Linked DNA regions of Homo sapiens. The protein of the gene in region 1 interacts with the protein of each later gene in a pairwise test. Each region holds a gene or a part of one and is shown in the gene's direction. Other genes may lie near its edges.

Region 1 (5,253 bases):
GTCCCCTTAAACCTGGAGCCCTCCCGTGGCTCCCCGTGACTCCTCCTCCACTCCCCATGAGCCCTAGGACGGGTCACTCATCCTCTCAGAGCCTCAGTTCCCAGCCCTGGAGGGAGATGAGGTTTCCCAGCCCCACAGGGCTGTTGTGAGGCTGACGTGCCCTCATGGCCAAGGGCTGTCTGTAGCCTGGCCCCCGTATCCTCTTGGGGTTGGGGGACTGGTGGCTCAGCCAGGCCATGTCTCTCTTCTCTGCCTGCAGAGGGGATCCCAGGCTCGGCCCAGCAGGTGATCCAGGTGGACAGGGACACAATCCTAGTCAGCTTTGAACGTGAGTGCCCTGGGGGCAGGGCTTAGGGCAGGGGACTATGGAGGTAAGGCGACCACGTGGGTCTGCCTTCCCAGAAGGGAGCCTCCCCGTCCCCACTCACCAATTCCTTCCCTGTGCAGGCTGTGTGAGGATTGTCAACATGCAGGGCGAGCCCACGGCCACACTGGCACCTGAGCTGACCTTTGATTTCCCCATCGAGACTGTGGGTGAGTGAGCCAGAGGTGGGGTGCAGGCCTTTCCCTGGCCTGGAGCACGTTGTTGCTCAGGGGCCTGGGGCTGGCGGTAGGATGAGGAGGCAGATCCCCTAGCCCCTCTCCTGAGCCATCCTGGTCACCTGAGGTCAGTGAGGACCCCTGTGGCCCAGACCCAGGCTCAGGCGTGGCTGAGGGGGTGCCAAGATGGGTGCAGGGCTGATGGTGGCCTGGCCCCCATAGTGTGCCTGCAGGACAGTGTGCTGGCCTTCTGGAGCCATGGGATGCAAGGCCGAAGCCTGGATACCAATGAGGTGAGTGGGGCCCAGGGACCTTGCTGTCCCCTGCCTTGTGGTCCCTACCTCTTTGGAAAGGACCTACTGGAGTGGCCTCAGTGCTTCCCACCTGTCTTCCCAGGTGACCCAGGAGATCACAGATGAAACAAGGATCTTCCGAGTGCTTGGGGCCCACAGGTAGGCGGTGGTACCCTAGCCTCCCCTTCAGATGCCCCTGAGGCCAGAGAAGGGGCTGATGTACCAAGTGTCTCCCGCCCTGCCCCCTACTCCTCTCTCCTCCAGAGACATCATCCTGGAGAGCATTCCCACTGACAACCCAGAGGCGCACAGCAACCTCTACATCCTCACGGGCCACCAGAGCACCTACTAAGAGCAGCGGGCCTGTCCAGGGGCTCCCCGCCCCACCCCACGCCTTAGCTGCAGGCCCTTTTGGGCAAAGGGGCCCATCCTAGACCAGAGGAGCCCAGGCCCTGGCCCTGCTGGGGCTGAAGGTCAGAAGTAATCCTGAGAAATGTTTCAGGCCTGGGGAGGGAGGGGAGCCCCCGACGCCTCTGCAATAACTGGACCAGGGGGAGCTGCTGTCACTCCCCCATCCCCGAGGCAGCCCAGTCCCTAGTGCCCAAGGCAGGGACCCTGGGCCTGGGCCATCCATTCCATTTTGTTCCACATTTCCTTTCTACTCTTTCTGCCAAGAGCCTGCCCCTGCATTTGTCCTGGGAAACACGGTATTTAAGAGAGAACTATATTGGTATTAAAGCTGGTTTGTTTTAGTCCTCTGGTCCCTCTGGGTAGGGGGAGTGAACCCACCTCATCTCCCGCCTCCTTCCCTCCAACACACGTTTCTGTGGGCACCACAGAAGGGCAGGGCCCCCAGGGTTTTGGAGAAGCCAGGTAGAGGTGACAGGAGGCCATGGCCCCCAGCAGCCTTCTAGGGGCACTGTGCCTTCCCCTGCATCCTTGCTCAGAACTGACCCTCAGCTTTGCAGTTTGAGGGCTCTGCTGTAGTTTAGCACCCCAAGGACTCATGCAGATGGGGGGACCTCAACAAAGGGACTCTCATCCAGGGCACCCTTGCCCCACGTAGGATCTCACTGGGTGACCCCTGGAAGGGCCCAGGAGGAGCCCCCAGAGGGCTGTTCCCTCCATTCCCATGGAGGCTGCTGCCCATGGAGGTAGCCTGTGTGACCTGTATCCCCTGCCTCCACCTACTGCCTAGGTGTTAGACCAGGAACATCAGATGACAGCACGATCATCAGATTGGATGGGAAGGCTAGCCTGTGTCCGTCTACCAGACTCCCAAGGGCTGCCTCAGTGCCAGGCCCTGGGGTCACTACCAGAAACAGACCAGCCCCCAGGGAGGGCGTCCTCCTTGCTGGAGCCTGCATCTTGAGGGCATGGCCATTCTCCTGTAGCTTGTGCTTACGCTGTCATTCTCCAAGGGTCTGTCTGCTCAGCTCTGAATGCCAGGGCCCCCAGGGCTGGGCATCCTCTTTTGCCCCAGGCACTGATCAGCCGCTCTTGACTGGAGCCTTTGGGCAGCTGCAGCCCAGGAGGCAGGATGGGAACTGCCTTGAGGGCCCACAGCTGGGGGGCTGGGAAGGTGGGGGCAGGGTGGGGGGAACAGCTGGAGCAAAGGCCCCATGGTCACCCCTACATTCAAGGCAGGTGTTGGAGGAAGACCTTTGCACCTGGTGGGTGGCAATAAAGACTTGCGGAGTGACGTGGTAGGTGGATGGCAGCCATGCGAGTAGGCTCAGTGGTTCCCAGGGTGTCACACTGTCCCCTCAGCCACCCTCCAGCAGAGTTTCAACTGTTCTGACTCTGTCCAGTGACTGGGAGGGTTTCTTGGCTGGAATGGGGAGCCAGCCCAGGGGAGGGAACACATCTCTTCACACCAGGCATTCACACCCATGTTCCCGTGAGCCCCAAGGAGGGTGAGGGGCACCTTCCAAATTGGGGTCGGTGGTAACAGGGATACAAAGTGAATTCCTAACTTCCAATTTTCCAGATTTCTCGGAGGAATGTTGGGACCAGGGTGGGGTAAGTGGGGACAGGGAGGTGAGCTCCTGCTCAGCAAAGGCCCTGACCAAAGGCGCCCTGGGGAGGACTGGCTTTCCGTTCACCAACCGGCCAGCAGCAGACAGTGCCTCCTTGTGGCGGATCTTCCCGGACCTCAGATTCAGTCTGGAAACGGGGTTTGGACTGCAGAGTGTAAACTGCCAAAGTGGGGGCCTCCCATAAAACGCTTGCTGCCAGCAAAGGCAGGCCAAGAGCAAAGAAAGGCCGAGAAACCAGGGAATATGCACTGAGAGACTAACACTTTAAATTTTATTTATGTATTTTTAAATGCGTAACCTTTGCCCATGGTACATATTTTTTTAAATACAGCAGAGATATAATGAAGTCTCCCTCTTACCCCGTCCCCAGCCACCCTGGTCTCAGTTACTTATGAACCCTTCTAGAAGTATTTTGCGTATTTAAGCAATTTGGTATATTTTATTCTTGGCGATTTTTTATATACGTATTAACATATTCCACATACTGTACTGACCTTGCCCTTTAAAAATATATCCTGGGGGGCCAGGTGTGGTGGCTCACACCTGTAATCCAAGCACTTTGGGAGGCCGAGGCGGGCGAATCACGAGGTCAGGGGTTCGAGACCAGCCTGGCCAACATGGTGAAACCCCGTCTCTACTAAAAATACAAAAAATTAGCTGGGCATGGTGGCGAGTGCCTGTAATCCCAGCTACTCGGGAGGCTGAGGCAGGAGAATCGCTTGAACCTGGGAGGCGGAGGTTGCAGTGAGCCTAGAACATGCCACTGCACTCCAGCCTGGGCGACAGTGCAAGACTCCGTCTCAAAAAAAAAAAAAAGAGAAAAAAATATATATATATCCTGGAGAATATGAATGTATTAAATTATCACATGCACCCTGAAAAGATATGTATATATCCTGGAGAGTTTTGCGTTAAAGATCTCCCTTTAAAAAAAAATTTTTTTTTTTTTACAGCTAGTGGTATTCCATTGTGTATGTTTCCCATAACAAATGTTAATGACCTGCAGTGAGATCCCTATTGGTGGAAATTTGAGTTGTTTTTACTACTTTTATATTACAAACAATGCTGCAATAAATATTATTAGGCTAGTGCCCCTCTGTACATATTCAAGCACTTCTAGAAGATAAGTTCCTGGAAGCAGCATTAATGAGTTAGCGGTGGCTACATATGCCGTGGTGATAGCTGCTGTCCAGTTGCCCCTCCATGGGCAGAAACCTGTGGGAGGGTCAGACCAGACTCTTTAAGTCATTCTTGAGGACAAGTAGAAGGGACGTGGGCCCCCCCAGGATGTTCAGGTAACTGGCCCATACCCGGAGTCATCCTGGTGAAAGTCAAGGGGAGCACCATGATGTGTGCTTCGGGACGGCGGAGGATCTGCCGTGTTCCCTGTGGCATGTCCAGCACCTGCTCACTACCAGTGCTCAGGAGACCCTCACGAGTAAGGGAATGGACAAGATGTGGTGAAGAGGAGTCCCTGCAATCTGCCCTTGGACTGGGTGAGCCACCCCAGCTCGCTGAGCTTTACTTTCCTTAGGTTTACCATATCCAAAGCCAACTGCAGGGCTGTCAGGAGGATCAGAAATACTGTAACAGACATAATGCAATAACATAGATGACTCTTAGAGGTAAATTAAAACAGCACTTTATGCACAGTACGATAGCATATTATAAAGCTCAAAAACAAAATGAAACCATCTATTGTTTAGCAATACATGCCCAAGATACAACCCTATTAAAAAATCATGGGAAGGAAAAGCACAAAATCTGAGATGGTCGTCCCTGAGAGGAGTGTGGGATGGGATAAGGAAGGAGCCCAGGAATTTTTAAAGGTATTGGTAATATCTTAGCTCTCAGGTTTGGTGGTAGGTTCATGGGTATTTAAGTTATAACTCAGTTCCTAACTCACATAAGGTGCCACACATCCTTTTGTATGTATCAAATATTATGTCATAAAATTTTAGTTTGGGCATGGTGGTTCATGTCTGTAATCCCAGCACTTTGGGAAACTGAGGCAGGCAGATCACTTGAACCCAGGAGTTCTAGACCAGCCTGGGCAACATGACAAAACCCTGTCTCTACAAAAGATACACAAATTAGCTGGACATGGTGGCACTCGCCTGCAGTCCCAGCTACTCTGGAGGCTAAGGTGGGAGGATTGCTTGAGCCTAGGAGTTCAAGGCTGCAGTGAGCTATGAACTTGCCACTGCACTCCAGCCTGGGTGACAGAGTGAGAACCTGTCTCAAAAAGAAAAAAAAAAAAAGGAAAAAAATTTTTAAAAAATATTTAAAAGTAATCACCGAAAAAATAGAACTCGCTTGAAAGACAAGACCAAAAACGAAGAGGACGTTTCCCTAGATGGTGAAAACAAGTGGGGCGGAAT
Region 2 (4,046 bases), on another chromosome or scaffold:
GTCTCTCTGAATCTATTTCTCTCTATCTCTCTCTCTCTCTCTATTTCCATCTCTCTCTGTCTGTTTCTATCTCTCTGTTTCTCTGTGTCTCTCTACTGTCTCTCTGCATGTCTCTGTCTCTTCCTCTGTCTCTGTTTTTGTTTGTCCATCTTTCTGGATCTCTCTCTGTCTTTCTCTGGCAGGGTTGAAGTGGGAGTATACGGCAGGTTCATGTTTGGGTGCAGAATGGCATTCTGCCAGCGGTAGAGTGGCTGAGGGTCACTCCACTCTGGGTGTCTCATGCCATGTGGCTGCAGTATGGGGTTCTCATTGGACCACCGTGACAGTGTAGGGTGGATGTCATTCCTGGAAACTGAGCCTCAAGCTGGGTTCTCCAGCAATGCCACCACCCCCCACCAACCCTGATATCCTCCGAATAAACTCTTCCCTTCCTTGGTCAGCGAGAGCCAGCGTCTGCTGCTTGCAAATAAGCCACTGAGACATCAGGAAAGCTGCTCACAGAATTACAATGAAAATCAGTAATAAATAAAATGTTTCTTAAATCTTTAGAATCAAGGAAAACCTGAGGGATACTTGGAGAGTCGCTAACAGCACCCCAATCTGGCAGTTGTAGCTCTGCAGGGTGGGCCCAGGCTGGCCCAGACCCTCACCCTCCAAGGGCCACACTGGGGGCTCACTTTCTGAGGAGTGCCCTTTGGAAACGTCCCAGGAACACGTCTAGTGGGAAAAGAGAAAAGTTGGTCCATCGAGGAGAGTGTTCTGCATAAGGGGAGAGATGAGAAGGTAGCCTTGGCCAGAGGAAGAAACTTCATTACAACCAGCTCTCCTTCTGCAAGGGAAGAGGGTGAAGTTTGAGTTTGTCTTGCAGGAAGACAATCAAACTAAAGAGGCCAACACCAGCTTAGAGCCGAGCGGCCCCCTGCTCAGAGCTTCCCTGTGGCTCTCCTCCATGTGATCCAGAAGGAGGGACTCCAGTGTGAACTGCCTGTTCCAGAAACCCCATCAGAACTGCCTAACCTAGAAAACCAAACAGGAGGAGCTGGCACCAGGGCTCCAGGCTGAAAGCTAAATCCAGCGGCAGCCAGATGGAGACAATGTGCCATGTGACTGCTGACTGCTCAGGGCAAATGACACCAGGGGTTAGCGATTAGAAGTTCACCCTTGACTGTGGCACCTCCCTTCAGTTCCGTCGACGAGGTTGTGCAATCCACCAGTCTTATAAATACAGTGACGCTCCAGCCTCTGGAAGCCTCTGTCAGCTCAGCCTCCAAAGGAGCCAGCGTCTCCCCAGTTCCTGAAATCCTGGGTGTTGCCTGCCAGTCGCCATGAGAACTTCCTACCTTCTGCTGTTTACTCTCTGCTTACTTTTGTCTGAGATGGCCTCAGGTAAGCTCTGGTACCTGCAAGAGTTTCCCATCCCCAGGGCTGGGGACAATGGGGCTGATGTGAGTCTCGGATGGCTGCCTCCGTGTCCCAAGGGACGAGGAACAAGCAGCAGGAAAGCATCCCGTGGTTGAGTGGCCTGCAGTTGGCAGAAGGCAGCAGGCAAGCCCTGCCAAGCCTTCAGGGTCTGTGAGCCGCCAAGGAGTGAGCCTGGCAGGGTCATGGCGCTTGTCACAGGCAGCTGCCTGCATCCTTGTCCTGGACATGTAGACAGTATCCTATGTGGATGAGATTGCTGCTTCCCCTGCAAGACGACTCCTCACACTGAGAGGCCAGCTTCCTATGCAGAGAGAGGGGCCGGCCCCATCCTCAGCCCACGTCACTGGGTGCAGCCTCCTGGGGTGCCCTGGTACAGGTGAGGTGCTGCCGCCCCACCCATCAGGCCAGCTCAGCCGGTGCCTTGGACTCACCTCCTGTGCAGGCAGGCGGTCCTCTCCCTCTCCTGAGAAATGCATCCACATTCTCCAGGTTAGCAGTCTCCCCAGTCAATAGGAGGGGGCTTCCTGTGAGCCAGGTGTATGTCAGCTTCTCTGGGCCAAAGCAGCCATGACCCTGACATGATGGTGGGACGTGCAGGAGGAATCGGGAACATGTTTTATCCCAGCCCTATCCTTGTTCACACGAGTCACATGGTGCTAAGCCTTGGTTTATTCATCTGCAGAATGAGGGGCTGGGAAGGATGATCCTGAAAGCAAGCACTCCAGTTCAGAAAGTCTCTGTAAGATCCTATTGTAAGTTTCTCTAGGCCATCACTGTATCCAGCAGATAGGCTTAATTTATTCCAATTATGCCTCAGTTTTTCCATCTGAAAGCTGAGTACAAAAGCATTCTAAATGCAGAACTTTTCATGCTGCCAGTTGCTACAATGGATTTTGTTTTTTTGTTTTTTTTTTTGGTTTTTGGTTTTTGGTTTTTGTTTTTGCTTTGCTTTTTTTTTGAGACAGGGTCTCACTCTGTCACCCAGGCTAAAGTGCAGTGGTGTGATCTCGCCTCACTGCAGCCTCTGCCTCCTGAGCTCAGGCCATCCTCCCACCTCAGCCTCCCAAGAAACTGTGACTACAGGCATGCACCACCACACCTGGCTAATTTTTTTATTTTTATTTTTTCGTAGAGATAAGGTCTTACTGTGTTGACCAGGCTGGTCTCAAACTCCTGGGCACAAGCAACCCTCCTAGTTCAGACTCCCAAAGTTCTGGGATTATAGGCATGAGCCACTCCACTCAGCCTACCGTGTTTTTTTGTTTTGTTTTGTTTTGTTTTTTTGAGATGGAGTCTTGCTCTGTCACCCAGGCTGGAGTGCAATGGCACAATCTCAGCTCACTGCAACCTCCACCTCCTGGGTTCAAGCAATTCTCCTGCCTCAGCCTCCTGAGTTAGCTGGGATTACAGGTGCATGCCACCAAGCCTGGCTAATTTTTGTATTTTTTAGTACAGACGGGGTTTCACCATGCTGGTCATGCTGGTCTTTAACTCCTGACCTCATGGTCCGCCTGCCTCCGCCTCCCAAAGTGCTGGGATTACAGCCATGAGCCACCACGCCCAGCCCATGTTTTTTTAAAGGAATAGAAAATATTACTTCATGCCATGTAGTAAAAGTAGATGCTATTTAATTACACCCATATTTCAGTTTGGGGTGTGTGCATATGTTTTTACTGAGTAGCAGTGAGAAATTTCTTTCTGATGGTGGTTCAGTCCAAACTCAAAAGGGTTTGAAAGGCACTTTGTTAACATAAAGAATTTTTGTTTTCAGTCTATTATATCTAAATTGAATTATGAGAAGCTATTCTCGAGCCTTCCCAGTCACAACTCCCTCCTACCCCCAAGAATAATCACTCACTTGACTTTTATGGTGGTAACTTTTCATATTCTTTACACTTTTGCCACACTAATTAATATTCAGGTTGAATAGTACAGCTTGGTTTGTGCACACATTTCTATTGGCCAGTAGGTGCCCTTATGCCTCTATTTCTACATGCTGAAAAGTTGCATCACCGGATCATAGGCTATGCATATATTCAATTGTATTGGACAATGCCAAACTGTTTTCCAAGATTATTTACACCAACTTGCACTCCCACAAGCAGTGAATAAGAGTTCCTCTTGCTCTGTATCCTTGCCAACATTTGATAACATCAATTATTTTTAAATTTTAACCACCTGGTGAGTGTAGCAATAGCTCACTGGAGTTTTAATCTGCATTTCCCTGATAAATAATAAGTTGGGCCCTTTTATACATAGTTACAGGCAACTGGGTTATTTTTTGTAAAATACCTGTTTGTCTTTTGTCCATGTTTTCTTTTGGATTATCTGTCTTTTCTTATTGGTTTGTAGTTCTTTATGTATTTTCTATGCAAGCCTTTTGTCAATTATATACATCACAAATATCTTCTCTTGCTTTGTGTTTTGATTTTTCACTCTCTTAATGGAAACTTTCCTAGAAAAGAGGCTTTTATCATGATTTCAATGTAGTCGAATGTGTCATGTCTTTTTCCGTAAGGTTACTGCACTTTCTATCTTGTTTAAGAAGACTTTCTTTACATCAAAGACATGAAGATAGTCCCCAATATTGTCTTCTAAAAGCTTATCCTTTTTCTTTTTACATT
Region 3 (2,982 bases), on another chromosome or scaffold:
ACAGGTCAGCTTGTTTGCTCAAAGCAGGGATAAGACAAGTCTCTAATTCAAAGGTTGGCTTTGAGGATCAAATGATTAACCCATGTATATACTCCTTAGAAAAGGGTCTAAAGAGATGGGCAAACTACAGCCCATGGGCCAAATGTGTTCAGCCACTGGTTTTGTAAATAAAGTTTTATTGGCACACAGCCAGGCCCATTCATTTATGTATTGTCTGTGGCTGACTTCATGCTACAATGGCAGGTTGATTCATTACTGCAGAGATTGAATGATCTGCAATGCCTAAAATAGTTAATATCTCTATAAACCTTTTGGTTTGTTGACCCCTGACCATTTTATGTACTCAATAAATAGCAACTATAATTCATCTAATGATAACAATGCTCATTTTGAAGCTTTAAAAATATGTAAAAGCATAAAGGAGAAAGTAGACATAATCTCTAGTCCTACCACTCAGAGGCAACAAATGTTAATGTTTTAGCATCTTTTCTTCACCTTCCATTCACACACATATATGTCCACACAGTTGATTTTGCAGTGTGCAAACAACTTTGTACGGTGTGTATTAGCCAGGGTTTCATCAGAGAAGGAGAGCCACCTCAAGTCAATGGTAAGGAGATCATTATAGGAATTAGGCCCCACACAATTGCGACTGGGAAAGTGAAGGTCTAGAGGAAAGAAGAGTTGGAAGGACAGAGAGAAAGTTGCCAATGTAAGCGGACAAGTCAGAGCTTAGAGGGGAATCTATATGCCAGGCTCAACCAGCCATCAGAGTGCTGCCATGGAGGGGAGCATCACTGCATAGTTTCTGTGGTAGCCTGGGGCTGCTGTTGTTTAGTGGGGTTAGACTTGGGAAATGAGCTTGGAGACAAGCAGGGCAAACTGGAGCACACAGAGCACTGCTGAGTCTGACCATCATCATATCTGACTACCAGGGCCTTCAGAGGGCAATCTACTTCGAAATCTCACAGTTCTAACCAGCTTGAACCCAAAATCTACAGGGAACAAAATTCTAGGGAGCAACTCCCAGCCTAATGATTCAGCCAAATTAGTCATCCCATGTAATTTGCATGTGGAATTTTCATGAACCATTGAAAAGTTTTTTTAAAAAAGCTTTGTTTTGAGGCTGGGCATAGTGGCTCACACCTGTAATTCCAGCACTTTGGGAGGCCAAGGCAGGTGGATATTGAAATCAGAAGTTCAAGACCAGCCCGGCCAACATGGCAAAACCCTGTCTCTACTAAAAATACAAAAAAAAAAAAAAAAATTAGCCAGGCTTCATGGCACATGCCTGTAATCCCAGCCACTTGGGAGGCTGAGGCAGGAGAATCGCTTGAACCCAGGAAGTGGAGGTTGCTGAGATTTTGCCACCACACTCTGGTCTGGGTGACAGAATGAGACTCTATCTCCAAAAAAAAGTTTTGCTTTGAAATAACAAAACTTTTAAACTTTAAAAAAAAAATTAACTAAGGAAGGAAGAGAAACAGTAGTATGGGTTTCACTGTCAGGAAGACATTGGTTAGAATCCCAGATCCCTTGCTATTCCCTGGACTAAAATTCCTGGCATGGAGGCCTTAGTCCATTCACCCTACCTGCCACCACCTCACTGCACATCGCCTCCTGTATTTGCTTCCCTCCTCACACTGCAGCGATTCCATGGCCATCATTGTGGTCACTTCCTTGCAAACACTCTGAACTCTTAACTTCCTTGGTTTTCCCTCCCTCTATCATACTTACCCTCCAAAGCTGCAAACCTGCTTAAACCTAAAGGTCTAACTAGTCTACATCTGCACCCAGCAGCTGAATGTGGTTGAAGAAAAACATCCAACGGGGCTGATGGTCTCACTTGATATTTGTGAATGCAAATTTTCATTGATATCTCTACACTGTCCAGCAATCCTACCTACATATCTCCACTCTCCAAAACAACTATAATAACAGATTCGTCCTTCTCAAATGTCCTCCCCACTCATGACTTTCACTTAACAATCTTGTCTCACTTTTCATTGAGAAAACAGAATCAGTTAAACAGGAAATCTCTCATCTTCTCACCTCCAAATCTACTCACCTCCAAATCTTCTCACCTCCAAATCTACTCGCCTCCCTGCATTTGAACCCACAAGCTCAGATGCCCTCCTCTCATCATGGCAGTAGTGACCCACCTCTTATGGAAGGCTGACCCCTCTGCTCACACTCTGCCATCTCCTCTCTCCTTCTCAAGGATGCTCACCTAACAATGAAACTCTCTTTCCAGCACCCCTTGTTTCTTCTCTATCAATCCTACTCACATATTAGAAAACGAACATCCTCTGCTATCTCTCATTTTAAAATTTAAATGAGGCCTAAAGGATCCATTCCCCAGGCATGTCAGGTTTTGAATGGTCAAAATGGGACATCTTGATGGGCTCATAGGGCAGGATCTGGAGCGACTGTTTCTGTAGCTCAGAACACCAGATGGCATTCCCTGGCTGGAGGACTAGCTCTGTGGCCTGCAGATGTCCTGTACCTTCTTTTCATCTTCCCTTCAGCCCTGTGGGAGAAACCATTCATTTCCTCAAGGACCACTCCCAAAGACTTCTATGTTGATGAGAACACAACAGTCCGGGTGCCCATGATGCTGCAGGACCAGGAGCATCACTGGTATCTTCATGACAGATACTTGCCCTGCTCGGTGCTACGGATGGATTACAAAGGAGACGCAACCGTGTTTTTCATTCTCCCTAACCAAGGCAAAATGAGGGAGATTGAAGAGGTTCTGACTCCAGAGATGCTAATGAGGTGGAACAACTTGTTGCGGAAGAGGTAATCAGTGTGCTATGGGGGCTGAATCTACAGTACTATCCATCAAATGTAACTTTCTAATGAAAGACAGTGCCCCAAAATAGAGAGTGAACACCAAATTATGAGAGAATTCTCACTTGCTCTGAGAACTTCCATGGGCTTCCTTTAAATGATGAACTCTCCTGTTATATTTAAAATATG
Region 4 (3,500 bases), on another chromosome or scaffold:
GTAGGAAATACATTTTTCGTTGTCAGCCAGTACACAGGCACATATATATACGGTAACATTCCATCTGGATGCACCAGCACAGCCATGCTCCTTAAAATACTGAAAAACCCTCATATCATGTGGTAAATAGCCACTTCCCTTTCCTCACCAACTAGTTAGTCCTCCTGCCTGATCCCTTTCAGAAACCTCCAGAACTAAAGCCAGCTTTGAGTTAAGATTGTTAAATATTTTGAATATCATCACTGTTGAAGACAAACATATATATTTGTATATATAAATATGTGTTTCATAATTTACCCTTAGTATGTATGATAGAGTCTCCTGTTTTCTATTCGATTTCACTTTTTAAAAATATTTTTTAGAACTCAGTTAATTTAAGGAGTCCCTACCACGGTTTGAAAAAATGCCACCCTAGTAATATTCTGTAAACATGGCCTGACAACATGAGGGTATTAAGGTATAAAATCCCTGGCTGCACAGGACTGGTAGACAAGGTGGAAGAGGACCTTATCAAGAAAGGAGGGGTGGGGGTACTGGAAAACATTGCCTCCTCTCCAAAATACACATAGATGCATCTAATTCATAGGGTTGGTATAGGAATATTAAAAAAAAAATAGTGAAATGACATAAAATTTGTATAGATCCTTTGAAAGCTATAAAATACTATATAAATAAAAGGTATTATTAAATAAAAGTAATAAAATGAGGGGTGGCTATTGCTATAAGGGAGAAGGGAACATTGGTTGACTACTGATCTATTAAGTTGTAATAAGAAAGTTTATTGAGATGTAGTTGGGAACTCTGTAATATGTTTCTGTCTTAAATATTTGATTAAATGACAGTCTTTTAGACTACTCCATTTTGAAAAGGTTCAAATATAAAATTGTTCTTAATGTGCATTTTTATTATTAAAGGTATTTGTAAAAATTGTCATTTGAAAGTTTAGGTATATGCTTATTTGGAGAATACTGAATATTTTTTTTTTTTTACCTTTCAGCACATTTGTGTGTCCAACTGAAATTATCGCTTTTGGCGACAGACTTGAAGAATTCAGATCTATAAATACTGAAGTGGTAGCATGCTCTGTTGATTCACAGTTTACCCATTTGGCCTGGTCAGTATCTTACACTTATATTCGTAGAAAAAAAAGAATGGATTTACTCTTAAAGCATGGACAGATAACTCTTGATATGATATAAGAATATAGTCATTTATCAGACAATTCAGGAATAGCTTTATCTAAGAGTAATACATGTAACTACACATTTTCCAGGTTAAAAAAAGAGAGAAGAGTAATATAATCAGCTGCTATAATAAAAATGCTTAAGGATTTTATAGGACATTTCAAAATAAGGGGAAAAGTTAAATGCAATAGATGTGATTTCTATAGCGAAAACCACTGAATTATATGCTTATGATAAATTGGGTTACCATAATCTGGAGGAAAAAAATCTTTAAAATATGCCATTTCTCTGTTACACAGTTATATAGTCAAACTCAGCTTTTACAATTTTGAAGAAACAATACTTTTTAAAAATGAATTTTAAAAAATGTTTAAAAATTCATTAATCATAAAAAGATGTTTTACCTAAATTCGTTATAAAGAATTGCAAATTAAAATGACGAGATGCCAATTTTCCCTGTCTGGTTGGCCAAGATTTAAAAGATTGAAAAAATGTATCCACTGTGGACAAAAATTGAAGAAACGGCACTCACACACAGCTGTTTAGCATTTCTGGAGAGCAGTTGGGCAACATGTCTCAAAATTGGAAATTTACATGTTAATATGAGTTTTTATAGTGTCCACAGTCTTGTGCAGAAAACTTTGTGCACAATAAAGACCATTCAGAATTGGGCTGGGCACAGTGGCTCATGCCTCTAATCCCAGCACTTTGGGAGGCCGAGGCAGGCAGATCACCTGAGGTCGGGAGTTCGAGACCAGCCTGACCAACATGGAGAAACCCCGTCTCTACTAAAAATACAAAATTAGCCAGGCGTGGTAGCAGGTGCCTGTAATCCCAGCAACTCAGGAGGCTGAGGCAGGAGAATCACTTGAACCCAGGAGGTGGAGGTTGCAGTGAGCCGAGGTCACGCCATTGCACTCCAGCCTGGGCAACTGGGCAATGAGAGTGAAACTCCATCTCAAAAAAAAAAAAAAAAAAAAAAAAAAAAAAAGATTCAGAACTATTGGTTTTAAAACATAATATTCAATTTATTAAAGTTACAAATTTGAAACACAAGCTTTTCTCATTTATAATCTGTGTGTGTATAACAAATTTTCATTGCTTGGTGAGCTACAATTTAATTAATTACATTTCCCTAAGAAATTAATTCCCATAAGTATTTTTAAATGCAGTTATATATTTAATATATTTGAATTCCTTAAGTATCTCAATTTTCAGACAAACCTTCCCAAATACTTAAGTAGTTCTAATATGCCAAATTCTCTTAAACATTATAAATAACTTAACATATAAATATGTACTGATTATTTCTTAATGTAAAAATATTAAAATAGCCTGGCATGGTGGCTCACGCCTATAATCCCAGCACTTTGGGAGGTCAAAGCAGGAGAATCATTTCAACCCAGGAGTTCAAGACCAGCCTGGGCAACATAGTGAGACCCCATCTATACAAAAAATAAAAAAAATTAGCCAGGTCTGGTGGTGCATGCCTGTGGTCCCAGCTACTCGGGAGCCTGAGATGGAAGGATGACCTGAGCCTAGGTGGTCGAGGCTGTAGTGAGCCAAGATCATACCACTGCACTTCAGCCTGGGCAATAGAGTGAGATCCTGTCTCAAAAAAAAAAAAAAAATTAAAATATAGGCTTAATTTGCTTCATCATTTCCTTTAAAAAAAGAAAGACAGGGTCTTACTATGTTGCCCAGGCTGGAGTGCAGTGGCACAATCAATCATAGCTCCCTGCAGCCTTGAACTCCTGGGCTCCAACAATCCTTCTACCTCCCCAAATAGTTGGGACTGCAAGCTTGCACCACCATACCTATTTTAATTTTTATTTTTGTAGAGATGGAGTCTTGCCATGTTGCCCGGGCTGTGCTTCATCACTTCTGTAGTAATTATAAATCTTCCGAGGATTAAAATGCATATCCACTAAGGAAAAAGTTATGGCATCCCAAATAATTTGGGATTGCTTTCCCAAGGAAATTTGGGGATACATTCTCAGCCTGATAGGGTTCACATCAACCAGAAATTTCTACTTGGGTGTCAGAACTGGGGCTCCAGATATCTAGAGCAATGTCGTTTTGTTTTCTATCTGCTGTGTCAGTACCCTCCTGTTAGAGCATCAGCCCATGTCTCCTGGTTTCAAGTTACAGAATACAGATTGAGCGTCCCTAACCTGAAATCCACAGTGTTCCAAAATTCAAAATTTGAGTGCTGACATGATGCTCAAAGGAAATGCTTAGTGAAGCATTTCAGAGTTCAGATTAGGGATGTTCAACCAGTAAGTATGCAGATATACCAAAATCGGAAAAAATCCT

What was found.
Region 2: the proteins of MAP4K2 (region 1) and DEFB1 interact in a two-hybrid assay, tested with the Homo sapiens proteins (one large-scale study listed by BioGRID and IntAct).
Region 3: the proteins of MAP4K2 (region 1) and SERPINA4 interact in a two-hybrid assay, tested with the Homo sapiens proteins (one large-scale study listed by BioGRID and IntAct).
Region 4: the proteins of MAP4K2 (region 1) and PRDX4 interact in a two-hybrid assay, tested with the Homo sapiens proteins (one large-scale study listed by BioGRID and IntAct).

The regions. Positions count from the first base shown.
Region 1 is NC_000011.10:64,785,469-64,790,721, reverse strand, and holds part of MAP4K2 (mitogen-activated protein kinase kinase kinase kinase 2), read left to right. Parts: intron 1-259; coding exon 260-328; intron 329-447; coding exon 448-534; intron 535-762; coding exon 763-833; intron 834-936; coding exon 937-992; intron 993-1,097; coding exon 1,098-1,185; 3' UTR 1,186-5,253. UniProt on the Homo sapiens protein: Serine/threonine-protein kinase which acts as an essential component of the MAP kinase signal transduction pathway.
Region 2 is NC_000008.11:6,875,137-6,879,182, reverse strand, and holds the start of DEFB1 (beta-defensin 1 preproprotein), read left to right. Parts: upstream 1-1,246; 5' UTR 1,247-1,325; coding exon 1,326-1,386; intron 1,387-4,046. UniProt on the Homo sapiens protein: Has bactericidal activity. May act as a ligand for C-C chemokine receptor CCR6. Positively regulates the sperm motility and bactericidal activity in a CCR6-dependent manner.
Region 3 is NC_000014.9:94,564,442-94,567,423, forward strand, and holds part of SERPINA4 (kallistatin isoform 2 precursor), read left to right. Parts: intron 1-2,528; coding exon 2,529-2,802; intron 2,803-2,982. UniProt on the Homo sapiens protein: Inhibits human amidolytic and kininogenase activities of tissue kallikrein.
Region 4 is NC_000023.11:23,673,993-23,677,492, forward strand, and holds part of PRDX4 (peroxiredoxin-4 precursor), read left to right. Parts: intron 1-997; coding exon 998-1,114; intron 1,115-3,500. UniProt on the Homo sapiens protein: Thiol-specific peroxidase that catalyzes the reduction of hydrogen peroxide and organic hydroperoxides to water and alcohols, respectively.